Homo sapiens: one gene and its partners. The protein of the gene in region 1 interacts with the protein of each later gene in a pairwise test. Each region holds a gene or a part of one and is shown on either strand. Other genes may lie near its edges.

What was found.
Region 2: the proteins of PRDM14 (region 1) and ZNF587 interact in binary tests that used the Homo sapiens proteins (3 or more experiments, as listed by UniProt).
Region 3: the proteins of PRDM14 (region 1) and RAD51D interact in binary tests that used the Homo sapiens proteins (3 or more experiments, as listed by UniProt).
Region 4: the proteins of PRDM14 (region 1) and HOXB5 interact in binary tests that used the Homo sapiens proteins (3 or more experiments, as listed by UniProt).

Annotation. Positions count from the first base shown.
Region 1 is NC_000008.11:70,061,234-70,068,261, forward strand, and holds part of PRDM14 (PR domain zinc finger protein 14), read right to left. Parts: coding exon 6,997-7,028; intron 5,273-6,996; coding exon 5,002-5,272; intron 1-5,001. UniProt on the Homo sapiens protein: Transcription factor that has both positive and negative roles on transcription. Required for the maintenance of embryonic stem cell identity and the reacquisition of pluripotency in somatic cells.
Region 2 is NC_000019.10:57,845,383-57,852,884, forward strand, and holds the start of ZNF587 (zinc finger protein 587), read left to right. Parts: upstream 1-4,476; 5' UTR 4,477-4,656; coding exon 4,657-4,689; intron 4,690-4,932; exon of another isoform or gene 4,933-5,179; intron 5,180-7,502. UniProt on the Homo sapiens protein: May be involved in transcriptional regulation.
Region 3 is NC_000017.11:35,116,848-35,123,819, reverse strand, and holds the start of RAD51D (DNA repair protein RAD51 homolog 4), read left to right. Parts: upstream 1-3,959; 5' UTR 3,960-4,206; coding exon 4,207-4,288; intron 4,289-4,647; coding exon 4,648-4,709; intron 4,710-5,200; coding exon 5,201-5,319; intron 5,320-6,782; coding exon of another isoform or gene 6,783-6,961; intron 6,962-6,972. Other genes in the region: FNDC8 (fibronectin type III domain-containing protein 8), read right to left, coding at 1,918-2,126. UniProt on the Homo sapiens protein: Involved in the homologous recombination repair (HRR) pathway of double-stranded DNA breaks arising during DNA replication or induced by DNA-damaging agents. Bind to single-stranded DNA (ssDNA) and has DNA-dependent ATPase activity.
Region 4 is NC_000017.11:48,590,780-48,598,658, reverse strand, and holds HOXB5 (homeobox protein Hox-B5), read left to right. Parts: upstream 1-4,879; 5' UTR 4,880-4,976; coding exon 4,977-5,538; intron 5,539-6,202; coding exon 6,203-6,450; 3' UTR 6,451-7,402; downstream 7,403-7,879. Other genes in the region: HOXB6 (homeobox protein Hox-B6), read left to right, coding at 431-923, 1,987-2,246. UniProt on the Homo sapiens protein: Sequence-specific transcription factor which is part of a developmental regulatory system that provides cells with specific positional identities on the anterior-posterior axis.

The DNA of each region.
Region 1 (7,028 bases):
TGGATCCCAGAGGATAAAGTGGCTTTGACTATGAATGCACCACAGAGATCTCATTGTTTGACCCCAGGGAGGAAGAGCAGCCAAGAGTGAGTCTATGCAAGAGTCTGCAGATAGAAATCTTCTCAGCATCAGGACAGCAGGGAAGCTGTCCATCAGGGGCTTTGTTAGTTGACAACTACATCCCAGGCACGTTTAACAGGTGGCTAAGGAAATAAACTATTCATTAAGTAAATAACCAGGAAGGCAACTGCCAGCCCCAAGCTGATCCATCGCCCTGCTCTGTCTATCACTTTCATTGAGGTGCTAATACTCTCAGAATCCCCGTGCTGGGACACTTTTTTGGCACAGAGGTAGAATTTTTATTGGTCAGAAATACCTGGCCTTCCTGCTTCCTGGGGTGGGAAGGGAAGAGAGGGTCAGCAATTTTACAAACCTAAGCACTAAAGCACACCAAAATTCAGAATAAAGTTTCAATACTGAGTTCGCTTAAGAACAACCACTTAGGTAGAAATGAAACCTAATTTCATCTTGTTCCCTATCCTTCCTAATTTTATCTTGTTCCCTATCCTCCCTCCCCCTAGCTCTTCACACCTCCACACCCCAAAACACACACCCAAATTCCCTCTCTCCCTCACAAGAGGGGAATGCTTGCATATTCAAATAACCCGCCCACATAGAGTCTAGACCCTTCCCTCACCACTCAAGACCTTAAAGAGGAAGGCTCCCACCTACCACCAATCCCCACCAAAAAGCCTTTGGGGAAAAAAACTCATTTGAGAATGCAATGGAATTTTAATTTTTCTTTCCTTTTTATCACATCCAAACCATTCATATTAACAGATTAACAAATTAACATTCATTTATAATTATTCCCAACAAATTAAGTTGTTTACAAGTTTCCCTCCATTGTCCAAAATATATGTCCTCATAATAATGCTGTAAGCATCAGGTATCACTTGGTTCAGAACTGGAACACAAGTATCTTATCTGCATGCTGGGTATCCCCTGCACTTAACCATCATAAGCCCTCATTCTGTTGCTTGCTCTGATTGCCTCTGATATCGGCATACTATTCCATGTTAATAACAAATAGGTTGAGTATCCTTTTTCTGAAATGCTTGGGACCAGAAGTGTTTTGGATTTCAGGTTTTTTTCGAACTTTGGAATATTTCATATACATAATGAGGTATCTTGGGGATGGAACCAAAGTCTAAATATAAAGTCCATTTATGTTTTGTTTTATACATACTTTATACACATAGCCTGAAGGTAATTTTTTTTTTTTTGAGACGGAATCTTGCTCGGTCTGCAACCTCCGCCCCCGGTTTCAAGCGATTATCCGGCTCCAGCCTCCTGAGTAGCTGAGATTACAGGCATCTGCCACCATGCCCAGCTAATTTGTTTGTATTTTTAGTAGAGACGGGGTTCCACCATGTTTGTCATGCTGTTCTCAAACTCCTGATCTCAGGTGATCTGCCTGCCTCGGCCTCCCAAAGCGCTGGGATTACAGGCATGAGCCACCGTGCCTGGCCCACCTGAAGGTAATTTTACACAATATTTTAAATAATTTTGTGCATGAAACAAAGTTTGTGTCAAGTACTGGTGTGTGGAAATTCCCACTTTTGGCAATATGTCAGTGCTCAGTTTCAGATTTTAGAGCATTTTGGATTTGGGATTTCTTGATTGGAGCTGCTGAGCCTGTATCATCATTTACTTAATTATTATACTACTGAACATTTAGGTTGTTTGTGATTTTTCACTCACAAGAGTGGTGCCACAGTTAAAAATTTTCATAAGCATAGCTTTTTCCTTTTGGACTATTTCTCGATAATAGATTTCCAGAAGAGTATTACTGAGACATCAAAGTTACAAACATTGTAATAATTTGATACATACGGTGAAAAAATTTCTCAAAAATGGCCGGCCATGGTGTCTCATGCCTGTTATCCCAGAATTTAGGGAGGCCAAGGTGGGTGGATCACTTGAGTCCAGGAGTTCAAGACCAGCCTGGCCAAAATGGCGAAACCCCATCTCTACTAAAAATACAAAAATTAGCTGGGTGTGGTGGTGCATGCCTGTAATCCCAGCTACTCGGGAGGCTGAGGCAGGAGAAATGCCTGAACCCTGGAGGCAGAGGTTGCAGTGAGCCTAGATTACACTACTGTACTCCAGTCTGGGTGACAGAGTGAGACCCTATCTCAAAAAATAATAATGATTTCTCAAAAGGATAATAACCATCTTGCCAGTTACTAAGCAGATACTTTTCTCAAATCCATTGTTCACTTTTCTTTCTTTCATTTTTCTTTTTGAGATGGAGTCTCACTCTGTCACCCAGGCTGGAGTGCAGTGGCGCCATCTCAGCTCACTGCAACCTCTGCTCCTGGGTTCAAGCGATTCTCCTGTCTCAGCCTCCTGAGTAGCTGGGATTACAGGCATGCACCACCACACCCAGCTAATTTTTTGTATTTTAGTAGAGACGGAGTTTCACCATGTTGGCCAGGCTGGTCGTGAACTCCTGACCTCAGGTGACCCAACCACCTTGGCCTCCCAAAGTGTTGGGGTTACAGGTGTGAGCCACCACGCCCAGCCTGTTGACTTTTATTTCGAAAGGAGTTGGTACATTTCAGGAAGTGACCAACAGGTCTTGGTTTGGTGCTAAGTAGGAGACAACTTAGAGCTCCACAGATCATAGAGAATCCCAACCATTTTTGCCTCCATTCCTATCTTCACCTACATTCCCACACCCACACCACCCACCAAAACACTTCTGGTCCCAGGCATTTCAGAAAAAGGATACTCAACCTGTATGCAGATATCAGAGGCGATCAGAACAAGCAACAGAATGAGGGCTTATGATGGTTCAGTGGCGGGGGGAACCCAGCATGGACATAAGATACCTGGGGGAGTAGGAAGATAGTTCACCAAAACAATCCTGACAGCCCCTCATCATTGGGACCATTATTTATCATTAGATAAATAATGACGGCTGACTGCTCATTATTTATCATTAGATAAATAATGACTGCTTATTATTTACCCCCTAATTTCTGGACATTTCCTTGCCTTCTGCTTCACTGTTCCCTGAGCCTGATTGCCTTCCCTCTCTCCCTCTTACACGTGCCTTATTTCATCTCATCCCTAAGCAGCTTTTTCTAGCTTAGTTCTAATGTCTTCCTCTCAGTCAGTACGCACTGGGATCCAGAAGCACGAGATACTAAAGTGTTTAGGGTTATTTCCTGCCCTGAAGCATCTCAGCCTAGCAGGAAAACAGGCATGCAGATGCAATTTACTTTTTTTTTTTTTTTTTTTGAAACGGAATCTCGCTCTGTCGCCCAGGCTGGTGTGCAGTGGCGCAATCTCAGCTCACTGCAAGCTCCCCCTGCTGGGTTCACGCCATTCTCCTGCCTCAGCCTCCCAAGTAGCTGGGACTACAGGGGCCCGCCACCACGCCCGGCTAATTTTTTTGTATTTTTAGTAGAGAAGAGGTTTCACCGTGTTAGCCAGGATGGCTATGATCTCCTGACCTCGTGATCCGCCCGCCTCACCTCCCAAAGTGCTGGGATTACAGGCGTGGGCCACCACGCCTGGGCCATTTTTTTTTTAAACCTGCTCCTTACACATTTATTACATCATAATAATTTGCCTTCTCTCTCTCTCTTTTTTTTTTTTTGGAGACGGAGTCTTACTCTGTTGCCCAGGCTGGAGTGCAGTGGTGCGGTCTTGGCATATTGCAACCTCTGTCTCCTGGGTTCAAATGATTCTCCTGCCTCAGCCTCCTGAGTAGCTGGAACTACAGGTGTGTGCCACTACGCCCCGCTAATTTTTTGTATTTTTAGTAGAGACGGGTTTTCACCACGTTAGCCAGGATGGTCTTGATCTCCTGACCTGGTGATCTGCCCATTTCGGCATCCCAAAGTGCTGGGATTAGAGGCGTGAGCCACTGTGCCCGACCTGAGATGAGGTTTTACCATGTTGGCCAGGCTAGTCTTGAAGTCCTGACCTCAAGTGATCCGCCCATCTCCGCCTCCAAAAGTGCTGAGATTACAGGTGTGAGCCACAGTATCCGGCCTGCCTTCTCTCTTATTTACAGGAATTTACATTTATCTTGTCCCACCTACTAGATTAGTAGTTCCTAAACTTCAGTGTATATAGAAATCACTTGGAGAGCTTATTTAACATGCAAATTCCAAAGTCTCACCCCTAGAGTGGGCTGGTGGTTCCCTCGCCCCTTGCTACTGGAATGTGGACCAGGGACCAGGACCAGCAGCACTCCCTGCAAGTTGATAAAAATACCAAATCCTGGGCCCCTACCCTGAATGAGAACCAGCATCATGAAGATCCCTGGGTATTCATTCCCACATTAAAGTTTGAGAGTGAGAGTCCAGCTCAGTATTTCTCAAACTTGCCTGAGACCCATAGTAGGCAATGTATTTTATGCTTGACACCCACCATACCCACATATACCCATGTGAAATAGAAATTTCACAAAACAATCCTTACTCTTAAGGGATTCCCATCAATATTTTCTATTCTACTCTATACTTTTTTTTTTTTTTAATGTGGGTCTTGACCACTAAATTGATTTCCCACCCCACTAAGACATGCAACTCTGCAACCCACCATTTGAAAAACACTGCTCTAGTGATTAGACTTCAGCTACATTAGCCTGGGCAGAGATGAATCAGAAACTGGCTCACCTATGGTAGAAGTTACATCCATTTAGTACGTTTTCTTTTACTCTTGGGGTGGAAGGTAGGGAAGAAGAACAAGTCTTTATAAATAGGAGTATATATCTTTATAAATAGGAGTAGCTTCCGCAGCTTTGGGAAATTGAGGATGCTTTCCTTCACCTGGGTAATTCCCCCCTGGTTAGAGACACTCTCGGTTAGTCCTCTGCATTAGCCTTTAGGAGGGAGGAGCTGTGCATGGAGGGTTTGTGGAAAAGAGCCCAGTCCTTCTACTGGGATGCCCTCATTGGGCAAGGCGAGGGTGTGCACTCACCTTCAGAGGGCCCAGATGGCTGCTTCCCCGGCTCTGTGACCTGAAGGCTCACAGGAATATCCAGAAATTTCTCATAGCAGTCTCCATACCACACAAGGAGCTCTTGGTTCTGATGGATCTCTTTGCAGCTCTCATAAAATATATGCCCTTGACACTGCACAGCAACTAGGTTCTGCTCCTTGGGGAAGCGGGCACAGTTGACATAGGACATCCAGTTCCCCGTACCTCCTTTTCCATCTATAAAGTGGCTCAAATGACCATCTTCAAAGATCTAAATGAAATAAGACATGAAGTTTGTATTGTACTTCTTTTTTGGTCTAATCTATAAAATAAATTTTTTAATACTTGTAACCTAAATATCACACTTGAGTCCACCAAATACACTTCTATCATTCTGATTTTTATGTCATTACAAGTAGTTTATAAATTTACTTATGCCAACATAGATTTGTTAGTTTAAGGACACCTCTCTAGGTAATGTCACATATTGGGTTTGTTTGTTTTTTTCAGAGACAGAGTCTCACTCTGTTGCCCAGACTGGAGTGCAGTGGCTCAATCACAGGTCACAGTAGCCTCGAATTCCTGGGCTCAAATGATCCTCCCACCTTAGCCCCCTGAGTAGCTGGAACTAAAGGCATGCACCATCACGCCTGGCAAATTTTTTTAAAAAAATTTTTTGTAGAGACAGGGCCTCACTCTTTCCTAGGCTGGCCTCAAACTCCTGGGTTCAAGTGATCCTCCCACCTTGGCCTCCTAAAGTGCTAGAATTACAGGTGTAAGCCACTGAGCCTGCCTAATGTGACATATTCTAAAAGATTCTTACTTTTATCACTTTCTTGCTTCCCAAATTCCTATAGTGAGCACATGTTAATTTCATAAGCAGAGGTAAGTGAAACAAAAAGGTTTTATTTAATTCCACCACTTAAACACAACTGAATAGTTTTATATTTTACTCCCAGTTAGGTTTCATGCATATTAATGGAGCTATAGATTATTTCTTTCAAGGCCGGGCCTGGTGGCTCACACCTGTAATCCCCGCACTTTGGGAGGCCAAAGCAGGCGGATCATGAGGTCAGGAGTTCGAGACCAGCCTGGCCAACATGGTGAAACCCCTCTCTACTAAAAATACAAAAATTAGCCGGGCATGGTGGCACATGCCTGTAATCCTAGCTACTCGGAAGACTGAGGCAAGAGAATTGCTTGAACCCAGGAGGTGGAGGTCACAGTGAGCTGAGATCACGCCACTGCACTCCAACCTGGGTAACAGACAAAAACTCCGTCTCAAGAAAAAAAAAACAAAAAAAAAAAAACAAAGAAAGATTACTTCTTTCTCTGCTGCTGGCAATTTCGCTGTCTCCAACATTTTGTTATTATAAACAACCCTAGGATTAACATATTCCACATAGCCTCAATTTCAGATTATTTTCCTGTACTATATTCCTAGAAGTAGAAATTCAGGGTCAAGGGACTTTGAACATTTTAAGGTATCTGATACATTCTGACAAATTTTCTCCTGCAGGTAATAAACTGCAGTCCCACTAGCATATCCCTAATATATCATCACTAGATCTTGAAGAGTATCTGGTTATTTTTTTTTTAATCCTTGACTAATTTTATAGGTGAATAATATTGAATTTTAAAACTTGTTTTTATTCTCTTTAGCATAGTTTCAGCACTCTATAATATCTAAAGCATTTAGTTTTGTCTATAAATATAATACAACATATTGATTCTTTAAATGTATATTCCATTGCTAATCTTCCAGACTAAAATGACTTAAGGCACCCACAAAACACAGAATTCATGCAGAGGTGCTATCCTCATGGAGCAAACACTGGCCGTTCCTTCCTTTTACAGGCAACACAAACCACAGATATCTGCCCTGGATGTCCTCTCTCTCTGACCAGGACTCTCCCAAAAGGGCAAAGGCCAAGATTTCCCCGGACTAGTCTCCCGCCCCATTTTCAGCAGCAGACCCACCAGAAACAGATTTACCTCCCACATCACAGAATTGTCTCCGTAGGTCT
Region 2 (7,502 bases), on another chromosome or scaffold:
TGTGTAGCTAAGCTTTGGTCAGAGGAAATAATCTAAAGGTTTTGTGAATTCATGTAACCTTTTGGGCTGCTCACCTTAAGGTAACTCCTGTATTAACAGGAGGAACAGAATAGGGAAAAAGATCTCAGTTCAGTGATGTAGCTTTGTGACCAGCCAGTGATCCAGTTCAATCAGGTAGAAATGACCTTCCTGCTACATCAATATTTGCTTCTATGGAGGCTAGTTTCCCCACTTAGGGCATGAGAAGAATTGGTAAAGTCAACATAAAATTGCCAAACCTGTCACCAAAAATGATGGCAAATCTGTATTTTTCTCTTAAACCGTGTTATAAAAGCTGTAATAAGGTATAGGCTGAGCATCATGGCTCATGCCTGTATTCCCAGCACTTTGGGAGGCCAGATTCCTTGAGACCAGTGTGGGGAACATGGCAAAACCTTGTCTCTAGGAAAAATAGCCAGGTATGGTGGCATGTACCTTAGTCTTAGTGATGTGGGAGGATTGCTTGAGCCTGGGAGGCAGAAGTTGCAGTGAGCTAAGATTGCAACGCTGCAGTCCAGCCTGGGTGATAGAGTGAGACCCCATCTTAAAAATAAAATAAAGATATAAATGACATCCAATAAAGTACACATATTTGAGCTGTAGGATAAGTCTTGAATTTTATTATAATCCCGTGAAACCATCATCAGAGTCACCATAATGAATTTATCTAATCTATCACCTTTGTATTTACTTGGAGCCTTTATAAAGTTTTTCTCTCTGCTCTTCAAACAACCATTGATTTACTTTGCTGTATGATGGAGTACTTTCCATTTTCTGGAATTTTCTGACTGATGTAATAAAGTGTTTCCTCTTATAATCCCTGGGTGCTCTCCTGCATCATGCTTATTTTGATGTCATTGTAGATATATGAGTTGTTCATTCGTTTTATGTTGCTGAGAAGTATAGTCTGCCGTGAAATGTCATTGTATATTCATTCATTCATCCATCCATTTATGGATATTTTAGTTGCTGCATACTTTTTTTTTTTTTTTTTTTCAAGACTCTCTACCAGGTTGGAGTGCAGTGGTGTGATTTTGGCTCATTGCAACCTCCACCTCCCAGGTTCAAGTGAGTCTCCCACCTCAGCCTCCCACGTAGCTGGGATTACATGCGTAAGCCATCATGCCCAGCTGTTTTTTGTATTTTTAGTAGAGATGGGGTTTCACTGTGTTACCGGGTTCATCTCAAACTCTGGGCCTCAAGTGATCTGCCTGCATTGGCCTACAAAAGTGCTCAGATTACAGGCCTGAGCCATGAGCCACCGCACCTGTAATTGATTCTGAGGCCAGGCACGATGGCTCACGCCTATAATCCCAGCACTTTGGGAAGCGCAGGTGGGTGGATCACTTGAGGTCAGGAGTTTGAGACCAGGCTGGCCAACATGGTGAATCCCCATCTGTACTAAAAATACAGAAATTAGCCAGGCATGGTGGCGCATGCCTGTAATCCCAGCTACTCACTCAGGAGGCTGAGGCAGGAGAATCACTTGAACCCAGGAGGCAGAGGTTACAGTGAGCTGAGATCACACCACTGCACTCCAGCCTGCGCAACAGAGTGAGACTCTGTTTCAAAAAAGAAAAAAAAAAATTTATTCTGAGATAATCCCAGTTCCCAGTGTGAAACTATTCCTGCAGTCACTGGAAAATAATAACCACTTTCTTGTAAGGAGATGAAATTTTGGAGCTCAGATGCCGTGTTTATATTGTTATTCAGATGGCCTTTTTAACCTGTGCTTTAATGGTGAAAGTTGTAGCGACTGATGTGTGTACCACAATGGCATTGGCTAAGTTGCTCGTCCTTTGAGATAGATGTCAATGTGATTAAAGAAATTGAGTACACCTTAGCATATGAATTAAGAAACATATTGACATAGTGATCCTCATAGTGACATAGATCAGCAGGACTTGTGTTCTGAGCACTGGTCATGACCCTGCTCATGATGAAACAGGATCTGGTCAAAACAGGATGCACTAAAGAAACCAGCTGAAAGCAGTAAAACTAAGATGGCAAGAATATGAACTCTAGTTACCCTCATTGCCTCACTGCTCATTATATGCTCATTATAATGTATTAGCATGCTAAAAGACACTCCCACCAGCACCATGGCCGTTTACAAATGCTATGGCAATGCCCAGAAGCTACCTCATGTAGTTTAAAAGAGAAGGAACCCCTGGTTCTGGGAACTCCCCACTCTTTTTCTAGAAAATTCATGAATAACCCACCTCTTATTTAGCACATAATTAAGGAGTAGCTATAAATATAGCTAGCCAACAATCCACGGGTGCTACTTTGCCTGTGGAGTAGCCCTGCTCTGTCTGTGGAGCAGCCATTTTCCTGTTCTCTTGCTCTCATAAACTTGCTTTGCCTTCACTTTACACTCTTGGCTTGCTCTTGAATTATTTCCTTTATGAAGCCAGGAACCCTCCTGGATTGAGCCCCAATTTTGGGATTTGCTAGCATCACTAGAGCAATTTTCTGTGGGAACCAGTGGCCAACTGCCAGCTTCACTACCTGCTTCAGGGTGTACCAACATCCGTCTATTTCCCTGTCATTAGATCTTTATTATTATTTTATTTTTTTGAGACGGAGTCTAGCTCTGTCGCCAGGCTGGAGTGCAGTCATGCGATCTCAGCTCATTGCAACCTCTGCCTCCAGAGTTCAGGCGATTCTCCTGCCTCAGCCTCCCGAGTAGCTGGGACTACAGGTGTCTGCCACCATGCCCAGCAATTTTTTTAACATGGGTTTTGCTGTGTTAGCCAGGATGGTCTTGATCTCCTGACTTCATGATCTGTCCACCTCGGCCTCCCAAAGTGCTGGGATTACAGGCGTGAGCAACCGTGCCCGGCTAATTTTTTTATTTTTATTAGAGATGGGGTTTCACCATATTGGTCAGGCTGGTCTCGAACTCCTGACCTCATGATCCACCTGACTCAGCCTCCCAAAGTGTTGGGATTATAGGCATGAGCCACTGCACCCAGCAATTTATTTATTTTTTATTTTTTATTTTTTTTGAGACAGAGTCTCACTCCTGTTGCCCAGGCTGGAGTGCAATGGCATGATCTCGACTCATCGCAACCTCCACCTCCAGGGTTCAAGTAATTCTCCTACCTCAGCCTCCCGAGTAGCTGGAATTGGAGGCATGCAGCACCATGCCTGGAAAATTTTGTACTTTCAGTAGAGACACGGTTTCTCCATGTTGGCCAGGCTGGTCTCGAACTCCCGACCTCAGGTGATCCACCTGCCTTGGCCTCCCAAAGTGCTGGGATTACAGGTGTGAGCCACCATGTCTGGCCTTTATTTTTATTTTTTGTGGGTATATAGTAGTGTATATATTTGTAGATTACATTAGATATTTTGATGTAGCCATGCCATATGTGATAATCACATAGGGTAAATGGGGTCTCAGTCACCTCAACATTTATCCTCTGTATTATAAACAGTCCAGTTATACTCTTTTAGTTATTTTTAAATATATAATTAAATTATTTTGACTATAGCCACCCTGTTATGGTAGCAAATATTAGGTCTTATTCATTTTTGCTCACTGTTTTTTGTACCCATCCTGTCATCATGTCTTATGGAGAATTTTCTTTTGTTCCCAACAAAACAATGAAACTCGCAAAACTGACTGTAATGATTCAGTCTACGTGAATTTAAAGAGCAATCAATACTTAATGTTCTCAGCTCTGAGTGCACACATTGTAAGTCTGAATGATGCCAATGATATGGCCACTTAGATAAGTAAAGTTTGGGAGCATCTCAAATAGTATTTTTATTCTCTGGGTGCAGGATGAGCTTCCTAGAGTCTGATGTGATACCTATTTGATGCTTTTACAAAGAATCAATAATCTTCCTCCTTTGAGGTGTGAGCAGGGCTTTCCAGCAGCCCTCAGAATGTAACATGGTCTGCATTCGGTTTGCTCTTGGAGGATACCACCATTGTTGGCTGAGAGCTCTGGGAAGTACTTTACCCAGAAGGCGCTAGTTGCAAGGCCCAGGATGAGGGATTTCTGGGCATGCTTGTCAGGCCAGGGAGTACTGGGTTGGGACTGAGAAGGCACAAGAGGAGTAGTCATCTCTGCTCCCAAGTGGCAGGTCTGAGGCTCATAGGCACTGGCTGGGGTGATGCCTGCTCCACCCACAGTTGATGGCAGCAGCCACACTGAGGGACCTAGCTCAGGTAAATGCTGTGTATTACAGGCTTCACCCCAGCTAGAGTAATACAGGTAGAGGAACCAATAGGTACAAAGGCTTGGAGGTGCATCTGAGCCATGAACATTTCAGAACCTGGTAACCATGTTGTGTCATGGAAAGTGGGGAACTACATTACCCAGAAAGCTCTGCTTTAAACGACAGCCGGTCAGAGCCAGTGAGCACTCGGAAAGAAGGCATTTCCACGTGTGCACGTAACGTAAGGCCGAGACTTCCGGGGTCTCTAGTAGCGGCTGTGTATCGGCGATGCGGGTGTTTCCCCAGTTTGTGGCCCCTGAGTGCTGGGTGGGACCGCGGTGACTGAACCTAGAAGGTGGAGAGGAATCGTCCTCGGTGCCCAGAGGCGGCTCTGCAGCCCCGTGACGGCGACCACTGCTCCCGGGCCGTGCTTCCCCAAGTAGTCCGATGGCAGCGGCTGTGCCGAGGCGCCCAACTCAGGTAATTGTGGTGCCTTCTGTGCCCTCAGGTCACCCCATCGTCACCCAGGTCCTAAACCAGCGAGGGAGCGGCTCCTGCTCGTGGGTCTGTAGCCGGTACCCGGCGTAGGAACACTGAGGCGCTCACAGGAGGCCTCTCCTTGTAACCGTCCAGTGGGTTCACGTTGCCAGCTGCCTAGACAGAGCCGATTTATGAAGACTGGGGAATTGCGATGGAGAAATAGTAATTCACGCAGAGCCGTCCTGCTGTTCGGGAGACAGGAGTTTTATTATTCAAATCAGTCTCCCTGAGCATTCTGGGATCAGAGTTTTCAAAATTTGGCGGGTAGGGGCTTGGGAAGTGGGGAGTGCTGATCAGTCTGGTTGGAGATGGATTCATAGGGGGTTAAAGTGAGTTTTTCATGCTGTTTTCTGTTCTGGGTGGGATGGCAGAACTGATTGACCCAGATTACCGGTCTGTGTGTTGTCCGCTGATCCATCCAGTGCAGGATCTGCAAAATGCCCCAAGCACTGATCTTAGATATTGGGGAAACCAGCCCCACACCACCCAGCAGATACCCCGAGTCCTGCGGAGACAAAGGAGTTAGAAAGAGACAGAATACGCATTTAAAAGGCGGGTCCAGGTGGCCAGAGCATTGGAGGCTTCCTGGCGGCCCAGAGCTCTTGGGCTCCACCCAGTTTATTGGTTTACAAGCTCTTTGTTCTTATGGCTGATTGGAGGGGGAGGAAGCGATCAGGAAAAGGATTAATCAGTAAAGGAGAACTCGTGAGTCATTCCATAAGATGTAAAGCACTGGCCGTTTCTGTGAATTTCCTTGAACAAAGGCGTGTGTCTAAACTACTTAAGATCTTTAACTTAACTGAAACGGGTGGCTGCGGGTTTCAGGAGGAGCCAAGATGTTTGATTATGCTCCACTGCTTCAAGGGAGTGTGATCTCCCTGAGCAACCCATGGAATGCTGCTGAAGAGTTATGCTCTCGGGGCATAAAGACATGAAGGCAATAAGGAGACTTTTCTCCTCAGAGGCCGCCCATGGCTTCCCATGGGTGTCTCACACAGGGGAGACCAACTCAACTAGCACCCCAGAAACTCACATTAGGTTTTACAATAGTAAGGTTATCTTCAGGAGCAACTTGGGGAGGTTCAGACTCTTGGAGCCAGAAGCTGCATGACCCCTAAACCGTAATTTCTATTCTTGTAGCTAATTTGTTAGTCCTGCAAAGACAGGCTGGTCCCCAGGCAAGAAAGGGGTCTTTTCAGGAAAGGGCTATTATCAATTTTGTTTCAGAGTGAAACCATGAACTGAATTCTTTTCCAAAGTTAATTCAGCCTATGCCCAGGAATGAAAAAAGACGGCTGAAAGGTTGGAAGCAAGATGGAGTCGGTTAGGTCTGATTTCTTTCACTGTCATAATTTCGTCAGTTATAATTTTGCAAAGTCGGTTTCACCTGTTTCTGACACCAGTGGGATGCAGTGGGGAGAGTGACAGGCACAGGTAGGGGTGCAGGCAATGGCCTGCAGATGGACAGAGCTGGAAGGATGGAACCTGGGGTTCACAGGCATCTGTCAGGAACAACGTGTGAGATGGAGCTCTTCCTGGTAGAGCAAGCAGGCCAGGGGCTGTGCATTCATCATGAGGATTCTAGAAGCCATGGAGAGTTTTGAAGAAAGGAGGGACATGATCCAAATCCAGGCTTTTAAGAAGTTTCCCAAAGGCCAATCAAAGGAAGAACATCATAGAGAGAGAGGATGAGGACTTTGGGGCCTTGGGAGGTTGAATCCGTTTTGTAGATCACATAGATGGTAGAGATGACATTTTGCACTGAGAAAAGCAGGTCAGACAACCAGCCTTAGGGTTACCTGGTTCCAGGGACAAGAAAGGGTTCAGGGAGTCCTGAGCTTATCAAATCCTGTGACATGTTTGTAATGTCTGCCTTTCCCCTCAGGCACTCCTGGCTGCAGAAGCACTTAGGGAACCCACACAGGGAAGTGGAGGGTGTTCCATTCCCTCATTGGTCCTGACGCCATCTACAGGTTCTCTAGCTTGTGGTGTCCTGGGACTCTTAAGTGCCATTTTTTTCAGTCCTTTGATCCGAGGACCCTGGAGAATCTCTGAAGCCAGGATACCAAGTCCATGACAGGTTATATGGAGGTATTCCCATTTCTGTCAACCAATGTAAACACCCTTGTAAGATTAACCCAGGATTTGCTACCAGGTTGTGAAATGCTTAGAGATAAAACGGATCAAAGTCAGGAGGTGATATTACCACAGTTCTACCTGGCTACAGGCTTCATCTGGCTGGACCTTGTTGCATAGACTGTGGGTTGAGGGAAGAGGAAGAAAGGTCAGAGATAAGGCTCCTGCCATAATCCAGGTGAGGGTTAATGGATCAGATAAGTGGTAAATCACATGGGTCTGGATTCAGGATTCACTTTTTGTAAAGAGACAGCTAGGTTTTCTTTTTTTTTTCTTAACGTGGAATTTCAGTCTTGTTGCCCAGGCTGGAGTGCAATGGCGCAATCTTGGGCTCACTGGAGCCTCTGCCTCCCAGGTTCAAGCAATTCTCCTGCCTCAGCATTCAAGGTAGCTGGCATTACAGGCACCCACCATCATGCCCAGCTAATTTTTGTATTTTTAGTAGAGACGAGGTTTTACCATGTTGGCCAGGCTGGTCTCGAACTCCTGACCTCAAGTGATCGTCACATCTCGGCCTCCCAAAGTGCTGGGATTATAGGCATGGACCAATGCGCCCAGCCGAGACAGCTAGGCTTTTTTTTTTTTTTTTTTTTTTTTTTTTTTGAGACGGAGTTTCA
Region 3 (6,972 bases), on another chromosome or scaffold:
GGATGTTAGCCCCATTTGGCAAACAAGGGGCTGAGGGTCCCTGATCTGTTTTTTTTTTTGTTTTGTTTTGTTTTTTTTATGGAGCCTTGCTCTGTCTCCCAGACCCCTGGCTGGAGTGCAGTGGCACAATCTTGGCTCACTGCGACCTCCACCTCCCAGGTTCAAAGGATTCTTCCGCCTCAGCCTCTTGAGTAGCTGGGACAACAGGTGCGTGCCACCACATCCAGCTAATTTTTGTATTTTTAGTAGAGACGAGGTTTCACCATGTTGGCCAGGCTGGTCTCAAACTCCTGACTTCAAGTGATGCATCCGCCTCAGCCTCTCAAAGTGCTGGGATTACAGGCGTGGGCTACCCCATCTGGCCTCCGATCTTAATTAAGTTGTCTAAGACCATAAATCTCTAAGTGGCAGAACTTGGATCTGAGTTTGGGCTTCTAGTCCAAGATTCCCAGTATACCATGAAGTTTCCTACGAGCATCCATCACTTTAGCCATACCTGCTTGCTTACGGGCACTTTGGGGAATGGACACCACATCCCTCTCACATACTCAAGACCAGCTATGTAGTCTGTGGAGCCCAGTGCAAATTGAAGTACCCTGAGCCCCTTATTCAAAAATTCTGAATTTGAAGATAGTAACAGAAAAGCATTAAACTAAGCACAGGCCCCTTGTAAGTGCAGGGCTATTTGTGACTGCACAGGTCATTCACCCATGTGGTGGGTGACCTGCAAGTAATTCCCTCAGCCCACATCACCCTGTACCACCACCCCTTCACTGGCTAACTCCTTTCCTTCCTTGGAGACTCAGCTCAAATATCACTTCCTCCAAGAAGCCTCCTTCAACTGCACCCAGTCTCAAGCTATACTAAGCCCCTCTGGTCCCTCAAGGCATCCTGTCCTGGCACTTACCAGACCATGCTATATCATTCTGGTTATTGCATGATCCCCATCCTTTCACCCCTGACCTCCACATGCCAGACTGGGAGCTCCTTAAAGGCAGGGACTGTGCTTTCCAGCTCTGCGTTCCCAGAACTTAAACACTGGGACAGACACCTTGCAGGTGCTCAAAGAGTTTTGTGGAATGAAGTAGAGGAAAACCAGACTTGGTGAGGAGGAACAGCAAAACCCAGTCCGAAGGAAGGCAGGCTACTGGGGAGCAGTCAGGTAGATGAAGGTACCAAAGAGAGAGGGTTGAGGAAGAGGAGCCATGGGTGTGTCAGGGATTTGGTGATGGTGAGGACCACAGCCAGTCAAGGCAGGATAAGGAGCACTGTCAACAAACTGACTAATCCAAGAAGGCCTCCTGGAGTGGGAGCTCCATATGCCTCCAAGAAGTGATTTGGGGCTCAGGAATACATAAATAGATCCAACCTGCCCACACGCTCTTCTCTGGGAGTCAAGGAACTGGGTTGTGACAAGTCAGGGAAGTATAGATTCTTTGTCTCTCTGCCCAGCCCTCGGCTCCAGCCTTTCTTAGAAACTATAGGCATGGTGGCTCAAGCCTATAATCCCAACACTGTGGGAGGCTGAGGCGGGAGGATCGCTTGAGCCCGGAAGTTCAAGACCAGCCTGGGCAACACGGTGAAACCCCGTTTCTACCAAAAAAAAAAATTTATATATATATATATATATATATATATATATATATATATATATATATATATGAAAATTAGCCAGGTGTGGTGGTGGCGCGTCAATAGTCCCAGCTACTTGGGAGGTGGAGGTGGGAAGATCACTTGAGCTCAAGAATTCAAGGCTGCAGTGAGCCGAGATTGCACCACTGCACTCCAGCCTGGGTGACAAAGCAAGATCCTGTCAAAAAAAAAAAAAAAAAGGAAGGAAGGAAGGAAGGGAGGAAGGAAGGGAGGAAGGAAGGGAGGGAGGGAGGGAGGGAGGGAGGGACCAGATTTGTGACTTACAGTAGGTTGATGGTATCATCCTCCAAGAAGTTGACCAAATTGCCCTTTGAGGCTAGTGGGAGTCCTTTGGTAGTGACGGTCCGGTTCATAGACTTGGGGTTTGAAAAGGGTTTTGGCAGTTGGTCAAGGGCATTCATCATGTTGAAGTTTTCTTTCTTCAGTACAGCCTCCTCCCCATCTCCCACTTGATGGAGTGCCTCTGATGCCATCTGATTTGTTCGGGATGACACCCGTCACCATGCAGGACAACCCAGCTGACCAGAAGCAGAGAGAAACTGTGGGGGCAGTGGCCCACCTTTAGTTTGGACAGTCTGCAGGTGCAATGAGCTGACTTCATAATCATCACAGAGTGTAACAATTACAGGCCAGCCTCCCCCCTTGATTTGAGGCTACTGCTGCCAGGCTAGCTATGTGGCTGGCCAGACCAAGGGCCAGTGTGACTGTGAAGCAGCATCATGAGAGGGGTAAAACCAAGGAACAGACTGCATGAGCCCTTGGGCCCCTTCCAGCTCTAATACTCCATGGTGATGGCAGCCCTGCCCTTCTCTGAAGATCTCAAAATGCCTGACACCTGTGTCCTTCCGCACTGCCCTGGGAAGGAGAATAAGGATGGTGAGAGATGGGCGTGGGATGTAGAGGATGGTGGTGTGGCCCTGAGAGATAGGCAGTATTGGAAAGTGTCTGCTGGGGAGGGAAACTTTGTCCGTAGAAGCTAAGGCTCTCTATCCTGAAACCATAGGCTGCAGACTCCACTGTGCCCAGTCGGTTAGTGAAAGGGAAAGCCCACATGGTTCATAGGGGTTCATGGCTCACATATGATCAGACTTCACTGCTAGAATTCTAAATGTGCCACACCCACACTCCCAAGTACTTTCCTGTGTGGAGTGACAATGGTGGCAGTTGCAGTGGGATACAGAGATGGGCCACACATGATCTCTGCTCTCAGAGAAACCACCTTACAGTAGGAAAACATGTACACAGCTTCAGGGGTGGGGAGGGGGGCTGTTAGAAAGCACTGGCTTTGCAGAGTCAGATGTGGATGTGAAGTCCAGCCCTGTGCCGCCTAGCTGGGTGACCTTTGGCAAGTGATTTAACCTCACTGAACCTCAGTTTCTTCATTGGTGAAACAGGGATAAAAAATAGCGCCTCCCTCACAGATTTGTGATGAGATAACCATGTAAAGTTTTATTTCTTCCTATGGATGAGGCAAAGCAAAGGACATTTAAAAATACCAAATCATATCTTTTTGTGTGTGTTCTATATAACCAAGGTTTCTTGCCCTTAAAAAAAATAAAAAATAAAATAAAAAATAGAGGCCGGGCACGGTGGCTCACACCTGTAATCCCCGCACTTCGGGAGACCAAGGCAGGAGGATTGTTTGAGCCCAGTAGTTCGAGACCTGTGTGGGCAACATGGTGTAACCCCATTTTGTAGAGGCGAAACCTCTACAAAAAATACAAAAATTAGCTGGGCAAGGTGGCACGTGACTGTAGTCCCAGCTACTCAGGAGGCTGAGGCAGGAGGATCGCTTGAACCCAGGAGGTCGAGGCTGCAAAGCTGAGATCTCACCAGGGCACTCCAGCCTGGGCGGCCGATCGAGACCCTGTCTCAACCAAAACAAAACAAACTTTTGAAAAATAGACGCAGGTGCCCTCTGGATGCTTTGCTGCTTCTTGACACCTGTCGTATAATCTGTAATGATGTGATTTCTGCGATTCCTTTTCATTGTCTGTCTTTCCCTTGCTCACAGTAAGCTCCCTGGGGGTAAGGGCGGGTCGTCTTGTGTCGCATTTTGTCTCCAGCGGAGATCCGTTCCGTTTGGAACGGAAGCTGGCGCACAGAAGGCTCTTTAGAAGGTCGGTGTGTGTGTTGCGGCAGAAGGTAGAGGCCGAATGTGGCCGCGGGTGGCGTGTTGAGCGCGGAGGGGGTCGTGGGACTCGGGAACCTGTGCAGGCGGTGGAGAGGGGCGCAGCGGCTCTGCCCCGTGCGGCCCGCAGATGGCGCTGCAGGCCAGGTCCTCGCCGCGCGCCAGCCTGGAACCCGGAAGCGGCAGCGCGGCGCGACCCGGCGGGCGGGCTCTGGGCGCGGGAATCCCGGCGGATCCCGGGCGGGCGGATGACCCCCAGCCCTACCCTTGGTGCCGCCTCCTCCTCTCTCCTTTCTCCTCCGGCAGCCAGCGCGCCTGTGTCCTCTCTAGGAAGGGGTAGGGGAGGGGCGTCTGGAGAGGACCCCCCGCGAATGCCCACGTGACGTGCAGTCCCCCTGGGGCTGTTCCGGCCTGCGGGGAACATGGGCGTGCTCAGGGTCGGACTGTGCCCTGGCCTTACCGAGGAGATGATCCAGCTTCTCAGGAGCCACAGGATCAAGACAGGTGACCGGGTGTGCGCGTGCCAGGGAGCCGCGCGGGCCTCGCACAACCTGGGCAGGCCCCGAGGGCTGGCGCACTGCCCTGGCATACCTGCAGGGCGCTTCCCCTCCATTCCTAGAGGGCCGCGCTTCTGGAGAGGCTCAGGAAGGGTGGGCGTGGGGAGCCAAGCTCTAAAACAGGGTAGAGATTCCTACTGTGTGCAGGGCACCGCGCCGGCTCCTGCAGCTTTGTTATTTCACACTGGCCTCCTGAGACGGCCTGCCGGGGGGTAGAATTGACACCCCATTTGACAGATGAGGAAAAACCAAGTGTGGGAGGCCCCAGTCCTCTCTGCCAATCCGCTATACGTGTTTTGTTTTCAGTGGTGGACCTGGTTTCTGCAGACCTGGAAGAGGTAGCTCAGAAATGTGGCTTGTCTTACAAGGTGAGCTCCTGATCTCCACATTCCAAACCTGAGTGTCTTTTTAAAAAGTCCATCCCAAGCCAGCTGGGCGCGGTGGCTCATGCCTGTAATCCCAGCACTTTGGGAGGCCGAGGCGGGTGGGTCACTTGGAGTCAGAAGTCAGGAGTTCGAGACCATCCAGGCCAACATGGTGAAACCCTGTCCCTACTAAAAATACAAAAATTAGCTGGGTGTGGTGGCCCACGCCTACAATCCCAGCTACTCGGGAGGCTGAGGAAGGAGAATCATTTGAGCCCGGGAGGCAGAGGTTGCAGTGAGCCGAGATCGTGCTACTGCACTCCAATCTGGGCGACAGAGTGAGACCCTGTCTGAAACAACAACAATAACAAAAGTCCATCCCAAGCCAAAGGGAGCAGAGGGTTCTCAGATATTGAGAAGTAGGGTGAATGACACCCTGGGATGCCAGCTTCTACGGGCAATTTGTTGCTGAGCAGTCTGGGGCCCTTTGGCAGGCCCTGGTTGCCCTGAGGCGGGTGCTGCTGGCTCAGTTCTCGGCTTTCCCCGTGAATGGCGCTGATCTCTACGAGGAACTGAAGACCTCCACTGCCATCCTGTCCACTGGCATTGGCAGGTTTGTGTGTGTACTTGGGGAAGAAGGAGAGAGGCAGGAGGATGGGGCCTCCTCTCAGCTCTGCTTTTGATGCTTGAGTCTAGACGGGAGGGGTTTTTTTTTTAACCAATAATGGATGGGAAGGAAAGGGGTCAGGACATCTGAATTCTTATCCTATAACAGGGTTATGGGGTATCTCAGCCTTGGCACTATTGATATTTAGGGACAGGTAATTATTTGTTGGGGGGTGGAGGCTGTCCTGTGCAGTGTAGGATGTTTAGCAGCATCTCTGGCCTCTGCCCACTAGATGCCAGTAGCACCAGCCCTGCTCCAGTTGTAACCATCAAAAATGTCTCCTGACATGGCTAAATGTCCCCTGGGAGGCACAATTGCCTCTGGTTGAGAAGCATTGTCCTATAACACAAGCTGTCAGTATCTCATTATTTTCACCATCTTCTCTGGCCCTACTTCTTATTTTACTTAAGGATATGGCAAGAGAGAACATTTACTGAGTGCCTACTATGTGCAGGCATTACCTGTATGTTCTAGGTAATCTCTTCAGTGACTCTACCAGTTAGAGATAATTAACCCTACTTGAGTTTAGCCTAAGAGGAGCAAGTGGCAAAGGTGAGGCTCAAGCGCGGGAGTATGTGGCCCAGAACTTATTCACCACATCTGCAGCAGTAGAGAACAGGAGAGTTCAGAGAAAGAAGGAGTTGCGGTCCAGATGCAGTGCTCATACCTGTAATCCCAGCACTTTGGGAGGCTGAGGCGGCAGATCACTGGAGGCCGGGAGTTTGAGACCTGCCTGGCCTGCTTGCCCGCCCAAAATGATGAAACCCCGTCTCTACTAAACATACAAAAATTAGTCGGGCGTGGTGGCGGGCGCCTGTAGTCCCAGCTACTTGGGAGGCTGCAGCAGGAGAATTGCTTGAATGTGGGAGGTGGAGGTTGCAGTAGGCCAAGATCGCACCACTGCACTCCAGCCTTGGTGGCAGAGCGAGACTCTCTCAAAAAAAAGGAGCAGTTATGTCCCGCCACGTTGTTTGGTGGGTTGGGGAAGAGTTGCAAAGACGACAGACGTTTGCTGGCCAAGTGAGTCTTGACCTTTTTCCTGGTCTGTTTGTTCAGAAATTGATGAATAACTGCCACCATAAAGGTCTTTGGATTGGTGTGGCCCTTTCTGTTTCCTTAACACATTCTCTTGGCAGGGTTCATGCAGTGTGGTGCTTGCTTTCCCTGGTTGGGGGTCTGAGTCTGTGATCCATCAAGCACTGGCTAAGGGCCTGCTGGGTGCTTGGTATGTGCAGATGATACATACACGAATGAGGCAAGGCCCCTGCCCTTAAGGCCTCTAGTTGGGTGTAGGGGAAAATCAAGTGAATACAAGAGAGCTGTAAGCACCGAGGGAGGCAACGGTAAGGAGGGAGTGGTGAACAGGAAGCCGATTGGCCTTGGGCTTAGGGAGTTTATAAATCCAACAGACATGGAGGGCGCACTCAAGTGGGAACCTGGGAGGACTGCAGCTGCCTCAGGTCCCCGCAGGGAGATCGTGGAGTGGGGTCAGGAATGCTCTGAAGAAGGCAGGACTTGGGCATGGAGGAACAGATGGACTTTCGCTGAATGCTTTCGATGAACGAGGCACTGCGGTCAGCACTTCACGGTACATTATTT
Region 4 (7,879 bases), on another chromosome or scaffold:
AGAAGGGGTCGAAGCAACGCAGGGGTTAACTTTTCTGAAAACACAATTAACTTTTTCCAATCCTGCGTGGGGTGGGGGAGAGACATATTTATTTAATCACCCGGGAGTGGGGTGGTCTCAATCTAAACGTTCCCTCCTCCCTCAAAGGCACTGAGCCTGTTTCACAGATCCTACGTAGGTGGAACAGGACGCGTTGTGTTGTTGGGGGGAGAGAGGAGAAAGGCGAAGGAGAAGGAGGAAAAAAAAAAAGGTTGATAGGTTTGTGCGCGGGTCCCTCGTGCGGGCTGCGCTCCTCCTGGGTGCTATTTGACAATTCCTGCCTCTGCCATTGGTCAGTGTTGGATCAGATGGTTGTATTTCCTTCTGGCCCTCACTGGCACCTCGCCATCCCCCCTCAGCTAAAACCCAATCTCGGATATACTACTAATAGGCGCGGCGCTCGGACTATAAAACACAACAAATCATAAACCCGGCGGAGCAGCAGCGGCCGCGCGCGCCTCCCCTCCCAATGAGTTCCTATTTCGTGAACTCCACCTTCCCCGTCACTCTGGCCAGCGGGCAGGAGTCCTTCCTGGGCCAGCTACCGCTCTATTCGTCGGGCTATGCGGACCCGCTGAGACATTACCCCGCGCCCTACGGGCCAGGGCCGGGCCAGGACAAGGGCTTTGCCACTTCCTCCTATTACCCGCCGGCGGGCGGTGGCTACGGCCGAGCGGCGCCCTGCGACTACGGGCCGGCGCCGGCCTTCTACCGCGAGAAAGAGTCGGCCTGCGCACTCTCCGGCGCCGACGAGCAGCCCCCGTTCCACCCCGAGCCGCGGAAGTCGGACTGCGCGCAGGACAAGAGCGTGTTCGGCGAGACAGAAGAGCAGAAGTGCTCCACTCCGGTCTACCCGTGGATGCAGCGGATGAATTCGTGCAACAGTGAGTGAGACTTCCCGTCGCCGTCGCCCCGGCTCCCCTGGGCGCCCACCCCGGGACACAGAACTAGTGAGCGCCCCCTGCCCCAATCTCCCACAGGGTGCTGGGTGGGCATCTCAGTTAGGAGATAGAAGAAGATTGGGCGCCGGCCGGGGGTCTCTCGCTGTGTCCCCTATTAGGCAGGAGTTACAAAGTTTGCAAAGTCCCAGCCGCACTGGGAGCCATGGGGAGCAAGTGTGCTCTCCTGGGGCGCCTGGCCAGAGCCGGGGTTCCAGGACAGGGAAGGGAGCAGGAGCCTGCAGTCACTGGCTTGGCTTTACTTTGAGCCCCCAACCCCCCTCTCCCAGCCCTGGTAGGGTTCCCCAACCAAAGACGGCTCCATTAAAAACGGAGTGCGTCATGCAAGGGGGTAGGGGGTGACGCTGAAGAGAAAGAGTTGAGTCTGTCTGGGACTGTGTTTCCCTGTGGGTGGGGAGCTGGGGCAAGATGAGGCACCAGGAAAGGGGTGGTAGTCAGAGGAGGGAGGAGGAATAAGGGGAAGGAAGAGAGAGGGAGCAGGCGGAGCGAGAGAGGGAGAAACAGGCGCGGGGTCTCAGGTTGGATTATTTGTTGGCCTTAAGTCCCAACTGATGTCCATTAGCCGGACTCGAAAGTGAGGAGCCGTTAATGTGGACTATGGATCGATCTACGTCATTACGGATTAACGGCCTGGATTTATCATTGGGTTGGGGGGATGACGGGGGGTGGGAACAAGATGGATGGAAAGGGAGGGAAAGACAAGATGCAACTAGGAAGAGACACACCTGACCAGCCCCTCCCCCCAGGCTCAGGTGGGAGTTCAAACTGCTCCTCCCCTCCCCCATCTAGAGTCTAGACAGACGGCACAGGCCTAGGAGACTAGGAGGGAATCTGGAGGGGGCGCTGGAGGAGTGCGAAACGGGGGAAGGGAGCCGGCAGAATAGAGGGCATCCCGGTACTGGCTGGAGTCTGTGTTCGAGGGTCGACTAGGGGAGGGGGTCCTGGGCCCGGTGACCGCAGGCCTCAGCATCTCCACTCTGCGTAACAGGTTCCTCCTTTGGGCCCAGCGGCCGGCGAGGCCGCCAGACATACACACGTTACCAGACGCTGGAGCTGGAGAAGGAGTTTCACTACAATCGCTACCTGACGCGGCGGCGGCGCATCGAGATCGCGCACGCCCTGTGCCTGACGGAGAGGCAGATCAAGATATGGTTCCAGAACCGACGCATGAAGTGGAAAAAGGAGAGCAAACTGCTCAGCGCGTCTCAGCTCAGTGCCGAGGAGGAGGAAGAAAAACAGGCCGAGTGAAGGTGCTGGAAAGGGAGGGAGGACGCGAGGGGAAAGGCCTGTGGGGAGCCGAGGGCGTCAGAGAGACCCGGGAAGGAAGGCTCTCGGGTGGGGGAGCCAGGAGACCTGCTCTCCGGCGCAGACAGGCGGGGCCCAGCGCTCTCCTGGACGCCCCCGCCCGCACAGCTCCCGGCGGGTGCTCTGAGGCCTCACTACTCGAGCCCACCCAGCATCCCGCGCGCCCTTCCTTCCCGAGGAACTCGCCTCAGCCTGATCAGGCTTCCTGGTGAGAACTGAGGAGCGGACTCACTTGATGTTTCCTGGAAGCAGAGCAAAATGCTCTTGTCCCTGTCGCGTCTCATTTTGTCCATGTCCCCCGTGCACGGTTCAATGGTAGATTCGCTGTCCCCTCAGCGGGGGCCTTGAAGACTCCCTGATCCCAGACCTGTCGTCTCTCCCACCCCCTCCCCAAAGCCACTGGAAGGAGCACATACTACCTAGAAGTAAGAAGAGGAGCCTCAGAAGAAAACAAAGTTCTATTTTATTAATTTTCTATGTGTTGTGTTTGTAGTCTTGTCTTAGCTCTGGACGTGAAATACTTCGATGATGATGATGATGATGATGATGATAATAATAATAATAATAACAACAACAACAACAATAATAAAGATGTGAAAACTCGACGCTCGGTCACCTCCAATCCTCCCCTGCCATTTTTTCCTCTCTCCTCAACCCCCAGCCTCTCCATCTTTCCTGAGCCAGAATTCTTCAGCAAAGGCGAGAGCCCTGGCCCGCCGAAGCGAGCCCTGTTCGACTGGGAAGTTACAGCTGAGATAAAGGCTGGAGCGATCAGTCCTGCCCAGGCCCCAGCGCTGCGTTTCCCTGGTGCTGAGGCTCACAGCCGCTTCTCCCCGTGCAGACTTGGGGGATGGAGAGGTGCTGTGTCCCTCTCATTCTCTAGCCTTTCCTCGTGTATACACAGCACTAAGGGAGCCACTGAGGCCCCTAAAGCTCTCTGGCGGAGACGGAGCCATAGTCTGGGGGCCTCTGCAGCGCTTTTCTGTCCTCACCTTCGCAGCGACCCCTGGTCTTTGGCCCGTCCACATGGCCAGGTTTTTTCGCCAGCCTTGGCCCTCCGCTCCTGGCCTGTGGCTCTGGAGACTGAAAAATGGGGCCACTGGGTATCTCTCACCCTGCAGCTGAAGGCTCCAGGTGCCCCTTCCCACCTCAAGTAGCAGATCAGCCTCAAGTAGGAGATCAGCCTCAAGTAGGGGAATGTAAAGCCACCAGCCAGGCACAGGCCGAAGGCCACAACTTTCCCTTGCTCCTTGGAGACCCCAGGGCAGGAGGCCAGGTGATGGGGCTTTTAGTGTCATCCTCTCAACCCAGAATGGCTCATTCTCTCTCTGCTTGCACCGGCACCCAGAAGGCAAGCTGCGGTCACTGTTTTCCTTTATTCCTCCGCCCTCTCGCTTCCTTTCTTATTTTTAAAGAAAATAGTCCCCTCCTAATAGGAGACCAGCTGCGGCGGTCTCTGGCCGCCCAGCGTGCTCAGCAAAGCATGCGGGTCCTTGGAACCCCTTTTCCGGGAAGGCGGCTGCCACCAGGCAAATTCTCAAACTGCCTAGCTGCGAGTGAGGGACCTGTAGTGGGGCCTCCGAATGCAATAGCCGAGGAGGAGGGGAAGGGATCCCGCTTTACAAACTCTCAGACACATGTTACTACTCAAACTAAGCAGCAGACGCGGTGGCCGCTGCAGTCTTTTCGGCAACTAGGCCGCTTAGCCCCAGCTGTGCTCGGTTTCTGGGGTCCCTGTCCTGCTCTGTCACTCCCCACGCCTGGGCTAAGGACCACCAAGGAGGTCCGGAAGGGGATTTCGAACTTCCAAGTGGCCCAGGAGAAGTGAACGCTTCTCCTTCTTTTTCAAGCCTCCCGCCCAGCCCTGCCGGCTCGGCCTGGGCGCTGTGGACCGGTAACAGCAGTTCCACCAGGATGCAGGCCGGACTAAGCTCCTGGGGAAAACCCGTTGCAATAATTGTTTTTCACACACAACTTCCAACCCTTCCCCCATTTCCGCCTCCAATTCGGAGACTTGCAAAGCCCAAGAAAGGGAAAAGCAACTCTATCTTTGATCTTCTCATCCAAAGTTAAAATAATAACGACAATGATGATGTAGGGAGAAAGAACCAAATAGAGAGGCTAACCCCACCCACAAGAAAGTGGGTAAAAAGCCCAACCCCTGCTCTAAAAGGCTCAACCCTGTGGCTGAGCCTTGGCCGGGTTTCTTTCTCTCCCGGCGACTGCAGGGAGCCTGCAGGGAGCCAGCAGGGAGGCAGCCGCCCGCCGCCATGGCGGTCTCACGCCCGCGCTCCCGTCGGTCGCCGGGAGGTGGCGCGCTCTGCTCAGAGGCCAAAGCCAACCTTCTCTCTGTTTCTCCCCCTTCTCCTTTTTTCCCCCTCTCTCGGAGGCTCGCATTGAATCGGCCCTAACGATTCTCGGATCGTCATTATTTGTAACCATAGAGCATGAATTACCTCTTGAGGTCATCAGCGAGAATTTACGACTGGTCAACAAAAGCACGTGATTCCCTAACGCCCCCCACCCCCCTTCCAACCCCCCCCCCATATTTGGCCGCATACATAGCAAAACGAAGTACAGTGCATCGCTATAATTCATTAATACATCATAAATCGTGAAGCACAGGGTTATAACGACCACGATCCACAAATCAAGCCCTCCAAAATCACCCAAATGAGCTCGTACTTTGTAAACTCCTTCTCGGGGCGTTATCCAAATGGCCCGGACTATCAGTTGCTAAATTATGGCAGTGGCAGCTCTCTGAGCGGCTCTTACAGGGATCCCGCTGCCATGCACACCGGCTCTTACGGCTACAATTACAATGGGATGGACCTCAGCGTCAACCGCTCCTCGGCCTCCTCCAGCCACTTTGGGGCGGTGGGCGAGAGCTCGCGCGCCTTCCCCGCGCCCGCCCAGGAGCCCCGCTTCAGGCAAGCGGCTTCGAGCTGCTCCCTGTCCTCGCCCGAGTCCCTGCCCTGCACCAACGGCGACAGCCACGGCGCCAAGCCCTCTGCTTCGTCCCCCTCCGACCAGGCGACCTCAGCCAGCTCCAGCGCCAATTTCACCGAAATAGACGAGGCCAGCGCGTCCTCGGAGCCTGAGGAAGCGGCAAGCCAGCTAAGCAGCCCCAGCCTAGCTCGGGCGCAGCCAGAGCCCATGGCCACCTCCACAGCCGCGCCCGAGGGGCAGACTCCGCAAATATTCCCCTGGATGAGGAAGCTTCACATCAGCCATGGTAATTCTCTCTCTCTTTTTTGTCTTCTCGGCTTTCCTTCTCTGCGTTTTGGGGTGGGATCGGGGGGACAAGGAGAGCTTGGCTTTACCCTAAATATAGATTCATTTTTCTAAGGGGGAGAAGTATCTAAGAGGGGCCTCATAGCTTCGTAGACAGAGCCAAAAAGGGTCTCTCTGTTAAGAGGGGGGTATTTTTAATAATTTGTTTCCAGCTTCGGCTTAGGTTTTTATTAGCGCAGCTGAACCAGCTTTAGGATAAAGGATGGGGTTCATATAATGTGGGGAAGGGTCCTGCTTACCCCTGAAATTTTGAGACTGTCGCTAGCAAAGAAGGGGTGAACAGTAAAAGGAGCTTTCCGGGGCAAAAGTGCAACCGCTCTCCTCCCTCCCGGGGCGAGCGGCCGCCTGAGCCCAGCCAAGGGTGAGGCACTAGGAGCGAGCAAGAGACAAAGCCGGGCGCACTGGCTGCCTGCAGAAGTGGGGGATGCAGTAGAAAGGGGTGCAGAAATCGAGCTTGAATGTGGGCATCTGGAGTAGAGAGGATTGGAGCTGTGGTGAGCTGGGTGCCGGGACGCCTGGGTCCTGCTCCCCCGCCCCCTCCCACCCAGTGCCCCCTCCCTTAACCGGAATAATGTTGCCTTGCGGCTTTCCTCTATCTGCTCCAGATATGACCGGGCCGGACGGGAAAAGGGCCCGGACCGCGTATACCCGCTACCAGACCCTGGAGCTGGAAAAGGAGTTCCACTTCAACCGCTACCTGACCCGGCGACGGCGCATCGAGATCGCCCACGCACTCTGCCTGTCCGAGCGCCAGATCAAGATCTGGTTCCAGAACCGGCGCATGAAGTGGAAGAAGGACAACAAATTGAAAAGTATGAGCCTGGCTACAGCTGGCAGCGCCTTCCAGCCCTGAGCCCGCCCAGAGGAGCCCAGCGGCCCAAGAGCCCGTGCCACCCCCAGCCCTGGCCCCTCCAATCCTCCCCGCTCTGCCGCCGCCCGCTGGGGACCGGTTCCCACAAGCCTGCCTCGCCTTGTGTTACGATATTTCGTTTGGTCTTAGGTCTTCCTGTGGCTCCCTCTCTCCTGGACTGGTTATCTTGTTATTATTGTTAATAATAATTATTATTATTATTTTCCTTCCATGCTCCCAACTCCCTTCTGCTTGTCCCAAATCCGCCAGTGTTTCTGAATGTTTGTGTCTGTGGTTGCAGTCTTTCCCCCAGGAAAAAAAAAAAAAGAAATTCGCATGTTTAATGTGAACTCTCCCCTCCCCATCTGTGTTCTAACTTATTTATAAAAAGATGATCGCTGTATTTTGAGTTTCAGCTGGAAACTTCTGTAAGGGGCAGCAGTTGAGGTGGGGTAGTGCCGCAGTGGGGTCAAGCTGAGCTGGCTTCGGAGATGGAGTCCCTTTTCATTCTCCTCCTCCTCCCTCCTCACTCCCTAGGCCCAAGTCTCCTAGGGGCTTGGTCCTAGGGTGGGAAGGGGCTAGGGAGGACCAAAGGGATGGTATTGAGAAGAGAGAAAGAAGATAGTGAGATTTAAGTTCCTGCTGCCTGGGTAGGCCCCACAAGGCCTGGTCTGGGAGTATACGGAAACAAAAATGATCCTCAGTGCAAAATGTCTTGTGTATTTCTCTGTGAATCCATGGGTCTGGCTAGAGGGCCCAAAGCTTGTAAATATGGGGATAGTCTGGGTCAGACCCATCTCTCCCTTACCCATCTTGCTTCCAAGACCATTTGTAGTGAGCGAGTGGATGCTGTGCTACGTGTGAAATCTGTCTTTGCGGGGCCTGTCTCAGTGATTCGCTTTTGGTATTTGTTTGTAGCTTTCCTGGAAGTCAAATAAATGTTTCCCCCACTCCATTGCCCTTCCACTTGTCTTTTCTCCGAGGGGTCTGCCTCTCCCATCCCGGGCACACCCTGCACCATTCTCAATAGATCTGGGGTGCAGGGAAGAAAAAGTAGGCTGCTCCCCAACAACTCTTCTCAGCCATGTAAGTCACTGGCTTGGTCAACAGTGCTTGGGCCAGGGAACAGACCTTCATGCCTGGGGGACTCCAAGGCCCAGAAACCCCATGTGGGGCTGGGGCAGAGGAAAGGCTGAGCTAGACTTCATCCTGGTCTTCCACTAGCTGGCCAAGGAAGCCTCTGGAAAACTCTTCTGGGAAAGTAATTTGGGCCTAAGTCCTCAGCAGGAGGCTCCTGGCCTTTTGGGAGTGGTAGAGGCCTGCCCAGCCCCCTGTCTCCTACTCCAAGTCCCAATTCAGCTCTGCCACCAACTAAAGCAAAAAAAAAAAAAAAAAAAATTCAGCTGGATTTCAAAGGATTTCTCTCACCCTC